2 separate regions of the Homo sapiens genome follow, and region 2 is linked to region 1. Evidence: fine-mapped expression QTL. A gene starts in region 1. The other region holds a variant in brackets. All regions are shown on one strand. Distances are from middle to middle.

Region 1 (2,917 bases):
ATTTGGGCTATGTTTTAACAAAACTCTTTGTAAAACAGGTAGTTTGTAGTGTGCCAATCCATGTTCCAGAGCATCATCATTTTTTTTTCCAAAACAATTTTTTTCTTTTAAATTAAATGGAGCCATGATCTCACTGTATTGCCCAGGCTAGTCTCAAACTCCTGGGTTTAAGTGATTTTCCTGCCTCAGCCTCCTAAGTAGCTGGGATTACAGGCACCTGCCACCATGCCTGGCTAATTTTTTTTCTATTTTTAGTAGAGAAACAGGTTTTGCCATGTTGGCCAGACTGGTCTCAAACTTGTGACCTCAGGTGATCTACCTGCCTCAGCCTCCCAAAGTGTTGAGATTATAGGCATGAGCCACATTGCCCAGCCTAAAAAAACTTTTTAATAGAGGAGAGCATCATCTCAGACTGTAATGTGGGGAGGAATGACTTGGGTGTCTTGTTAAAATGAGGATTCTGATTCCGGACTTCTGGGAAGGGACCTGAGATTCTGCATTTCTGACAGGCTCTCAGGTGATGCTCATATTGTTGGGCTGAGGACCACATTTTAAAGACAAGATTTTGTAATACTTACTACAAATCCTTCTTTCCAGAATCTGTTATTGTTGCTGTCTGTGAATAGTCAGGAAACAAGATGAAAAAATCAGAGATGTTTAGAAGAAAGGAAAGACTGACCATTTTCTTTAAGACAGATTTTGCAGATTTGGCCTTAATAAAAGGAGTGGTTTACTAGTCACAAAGGTCAAACAGTCTGCACTGGAAAATCGAGCTGCTTAATTCTTGGTCTTCGTTTCCTCTGTAGAGCACAGTGACAATCCAGACTCAGCGGTGTTTAGAGACTTGGAAAGAGTTTGAGAAGCCACTTAGCCACTTTATTTTCAGGTTTGTAGTTTTGCCTCCCGTTCTCTCCCCAGTAGGTTAAAAATGGGGAGTGGCAGGGCCCGCTCCACATCCACAGAGTCAGTTGAGGCAGGTGTCTGGGAGCTGCACTTTCCACAAGGTCCCCAGATTCTTCCTATGCACACTAAAGTTGAAAAAAATTGAGTTAGCTAATACCCTTTTGGTATAGATTAGGGAACTGGAGCCCTTCTGGAGCAGAGATTTTGCCTGTGGTTTTCTAGCAAGATATATCACTACACCCAGGATTCCAACTGAGGTAATAGACTTCAAATATTTTGAAGTGCTCCATGAAAAATGTAGCCATTGATTTTTGAAGGGAAACAGGAGAGACAAATGGAAGAAATTAATAATCCAATAGCTAACCTTTTACCCAACGGAACCTAGTACTAGGCTCTAATTTCCTTAATGTGTTAGTTATCTATTGCTCCTTAGTAATTATCCCAAAACTTTGTAGTATAAAACAACAAATATATTTATAGTAACTCACACAGTTTCTGAGAGTCAGGAATTTGGGAACAGCTTGGCCTAGTGGCTCCAGCTCAGAGGCTCTCATAAAGCTGCAGTGAGATGTTGGCTGGAGCTGCATTCATCTGAAGGCTTGACTGGAGCTGGAGAATCCACTTCCAACATGTCTCACTCACATGCTTGTTAGCTCGAGGGTTCAATCTCTCACTTTGTGGACCTCTCCTTGTGGTTGCTGGAATTTCTTTGTAATTTAGTAGCTGACTTCCTCTAGTGCAAGTGACCCCAGAAATGGAGCAAGACAGAAGTCACAGTGTCCTTTATGACATTGTGATAGCTTCAGAAGCCACATAACCTCACTTCAAGCCATATTCTATAAGACACACAGACCAACCCGAGACATGTGGAATGGGATTACTCAAGGGCATAAATACCAGAGGCAGAGATCATTGAGGCCATCTTGGATGCTGGCTAACCGTACTTAAAATCCTGTGTTCATCCCATTCACAAATCTAGAGAGGGACTCTTACCCTCAATTTTCAGATGTGGAAACTAAGGCACAGAGAAGTAACATATTGATGATCATGCAACTAGTAGTGCCAGAGCTGGTATCTGAAGCCATATTTATCTGATTTCAGATGGTCTCATTTCCAGAGATTTTAAAATAAAGTATTGGTATAAGTAATCCTTGTGTGAAAGCAAAGCAAAAGATCCAGAAGTTCAAACCAGCCATGTCAATTATCCATTGACTCAAAAATAAGTTTTAAGCACCTACTCTGTCCAGGCACTGTTCCAAGTATTAGGAATCCAGTAGTGAACTGAACAAAACCTCTGTCTTCTGGGAGCTTACCTTCAGACCCTTGATCTGTTAGATATCCTAGAGACTGTAGAATGTAGAGCTTACATGAAGACTAGGAGCCGGGGATCCCTTCCTGCCTGGCCTCCAACCCACTGGGGAACCCAGGCAATCCTTTCTTTCCCTGGACCCAGATGCTGCCTCTGAGAATGCGGCCCTTGGATGAAAGCAGAATCACCTGGGGTAATGAGTAGACATAACAGATTCCCCAGCCCAGACCTGCTGACCAGAACCTGTAGTTTTTGCAAGCTGTAGGTGACTCTAGTGCAGAAAATAATTTTGTGGTTCATAAGTGGGCCCACCAGATCAGCATTGCTCAGAGTATGGGGGCCCATCCCTGTCAGAGTTACTGGTGGCCCTGAGACAAAGCTCATAGCTCAAGAATCAGTGTTTTGAAGGTAGGACTGGGAAAAAGCATTTTAAACTAGATCTCCAGGTGATTCTATTTACTATGTGCCAGACACTGCTAAAGGATTTATAGGGATGATTCCATTGAATACAACTTGTGAGGTAGAAACTCTTAGCTACTCTATAGTTGAAGAGACGGGCTCAGAAACAGGCTTCTGATGAGTCTGATGCCAACCAGGTCCTGCCCAGTCTCTCTGTCTTCTGTCTTGACCCTGAGTGGGCCTGTCTGCTGGCACTGTGTGGGGGTCACTCTACAGGGCTCGGGTCATGGTCCCCCTGTGTTTGTT
Region 2 (2,917 bases), 520 kb after region 1:
GATCGCTTGAGCCCTGGAGTTTGAGGCTGCAGTGCACCATGATCGTGCCTGTGAATAGCCACTGCGCTCTAGCCTGGGCAACACATCAAAACCCTATCTCTTAAAAAAAAAGAAAAAAGATTTTCAGTTTCACTTAGAAAATTAGAAGGTCAGGCCAATCAGGGCCTCCATTTCCTTCTAACACCAATCCACTGCAGTGCAGCCACCTGTGCTCCTTTTGGTTTGGTATATGGCCCCCAGTTTGCACCTGTCCCCAACTTATACTAGCCTTTTTCTAATTTAGGTACCTACCTAGCCCTATAGACATTTGGGTTTTAACCTGCAGACCTAGGTATATCTCCCATATATTCTGGGCCACTCCGATTTACAAATATTATTCTACCTCCTTGTCCCTCTAAATGTCCCAGAAATTCCAATATTTTGGCGAACAGTAATGCATGAATAGAATCAGATCAATAAAAATATACATAAGTCACAAAATTTCTTTGCTACCTCATGTGGTCCAATTTTCAGTTTGGAAAGCCCAGTTGCTGACCTCACCATCCTCCAACTCTCATTCCCATTGTTTTATGTGGGTAAGACCCTCCCACTAGGGTAGAACAAGGAAGATGCATCAGGACCCAGGACCAGGAAATGCCAGGTTTCCCAGAAGAAGGGGTCAAGGCATAGTCGTCTGTTGGAAAACGGTTGCTTAAGTTATGATTACATAGCAGGCTATACAGGTTGAAAAATATTCACTTTTCAAATCAAAGAATGAAGTGGGCTGCTGGAAATGAGGATCCACTGAACAAGGCTATACAGTTAATGTGTCTGCAGTTGGATAGAATTGAGAGCATGATGTCAGTGGGAATATGCAGAAGGTGCAGATGGTCCCTTGATGAGATGTATATTGGGGGAGGCAAGGTAGAGGGGTAGGGAGTTTACTGTCTGCTTGCAGCCGGGCAAGTGAATACCCAGCTCTGTTCTGAGCCTGGAAAGACCCAAGCTAATGCTGGAGTCCTGCTCAGTCAATTACTTATAAATCAACACGCTGCTCATCAGAAGACTGTATCCAAAAGGGAGCCTCAGAATCTCCAAAGCAAGGAAGGATTCTCCTAAGGTCTCTAGATGTGGGGTGGTTCAGGGCCTGGCTCATGTAGCCCATGGAACAGTCCACCATGTTTCACACGAAGGATGTGGGTAGGGGTGGTCTAGACACTAGACACCCAGTGTTGCCAAGGATGTCTCAAACCCAGAAAACAGTGCTTACCCATCGACTCACTGAGCCCTGGACCCTACTTTGTCCCTCATCTCTGTGTCCATTTTTTTTAAGTCTATCAGACATCTATCAGACATGAGGAGGACATGAAGGTCTAAAGCAGTGGTTCTCAAACATAAGCACACATCACAATTATGGGGAGGAGATGTTAAAACACAGATTGCTGAGGCCCACACCCAGGATGTCTGATGCTTTTCTAACAATTTCCCAAGAGATGCTGATGCTGTTAAAGCCTGGTCCACATTTTGAGAGCCACTGATGCAATGAAATGTTCACTATTGTTCATTCCTAGCGGCCTCCAGACCCCACAGCTTACTTAAGGA[A/G]AGCATGTGCAGTTTTCCCTAGAGAGTATTCCCAGGCAGCTGGACATGGTGGCTTACACCTGTAATCCCAGCACTTTGGGAGGCCAAGACGGGAGGATCACTTGAGGCCAGGAATTCAAGACAATACTGGGCAACATGGCAAAACCCTGTCTCTACAAAAAAATACAAAAATTAGCCAAGCATGGTGGCACATGCCCATAGTCCCAGCTACTCAGGAGGCTGAGGTGGGAGGATCACCTGAACCCCGGAGGTCGAGGCTGCAGTGAGCCATGATTGCATCACTGCACTCCAGCCTGGGCAACAGGGCGAGACTTTGTCTCAAAAAAAAAAAAGAGAGAGTATTTCTAGGTGATGTTCTGTGCTCCTCCTACTCTTACCATCCAAGCTCCTTAGGGATCTTTATCTGAACTTCACTGAACAGAGAAAGCACTGGCCGACCATGATTTACATGAACTGACTCTTGGTAAAGAAAGTGGTAAAGTGAATCTTTTGATGCCTCTCCCAAGGCAGCCCAAATCCCAAACTACAGCTCTCCTGGGAAAATAGGCAGGGATGACTTCTTGCTAATTAGTGTTACTCAGATTCAATTCTCCTTTCCAAGGACTTACCCTTTCATTCAATTCAACACAATCCAATCCAATCCATGTAGCAATTCAGTTCCCTGGCAAGGAGACCCACACAAGCTTTGGGGCAGTAAAGCTCAACCTTGAGTGTGAAGATTCCTCTGACTCAGTCCTCTCAGTCCTGATGCAGTGGATGGGGAAAAGAGAGAGAAGTCCAGAGAAACTGCACTTTAACCAATCCCTGATGCTTCTGAAGCAAATGAGCCTGCCCATATCTTGAGAAATACTCCAGTAGAATTCTAAGGACTCAACAATTTCAGGTGTTTTCATTCTTCAAGAGGAGCCTGTCAAAACCAACCTTTATTTTTAGGCTGGAGTGCAGTGGTGCAATCTTAGTTCACTGCAACTTCTGCCTCCTGGGTTCAAGAGATTCTCATGCCTCAGCCTCCCGAGTAGCTGGGATTACAGGCACATGCCACCATGCCTGGCTAATTTTTGTATTTTTGGTAGAGACAGGATTTGCCATGTTGGCGAGGCTGGTCTCGAACTCCTGACCTCTAGTGATCCACTTGCCTCAGCCTCACAAAGGGCTGGGATTACCAGCATGAGCCACCGTGCCTGGCCAAAACCAGCCTTTCTATCCAGAGTCCAGAAAACCCAGGGAACCTTAATCAACACAGCCTCATTTCCCATCTCCAGAACTGAAGCTGGGGCTTTACAGAGTGTCCCTACGAGTAAATTATTCTAATTAAATTCAATATAATCAAACTTAA

Direction of the effects. Alleles are on the strand shown, and positions count from the first base shown. SD is a standard deviation of normalised expression in the study named.
With allele A in place of G in region 2, the expression in lymphoblastoid cells of the gene that starts at base 1,621 in region 1 is higher (small effect, 0.35 SD a copy in TwinsUK).

Evidence for each region. PIP is the estimated chance that this variant, and not a neighbour inherited with it, causes the effect.
Region 2: its variant is the best candidate, but not a certain one, in a credible set for the expression of ATOX1-AS1 in lymphoblastoid cells (TwinsUK, PIP 0.54).

Annotation. Positions count from the first base shown.
Region 1 is chr5:151,751,784-151,754,700 of GRCh38, reverse strand. It overlaps ATOX1-AS1 (ATOX1 antisense RNA 1), which reads right to left and starts at 1,621. Exons shown (of 4, transcript XR_007059008.1): 1 at 1,392-1,621; 2 at 579-1,028. The region is part of intron 1 of ATOX1 (antioxidant 1 copper chaperone); the gene reads left to right.
Region 2 is chr5:151,230,980-151,233,896 of GRCh38, reverse strand. No RefSeq gene overlaps it. Among named protein-coding and RNA genes, the nearest start is that of CCDC69, 8.3 kb to the right of the region's middle. The variant A/G (reference allele first, on the strand shown) is at 1,582.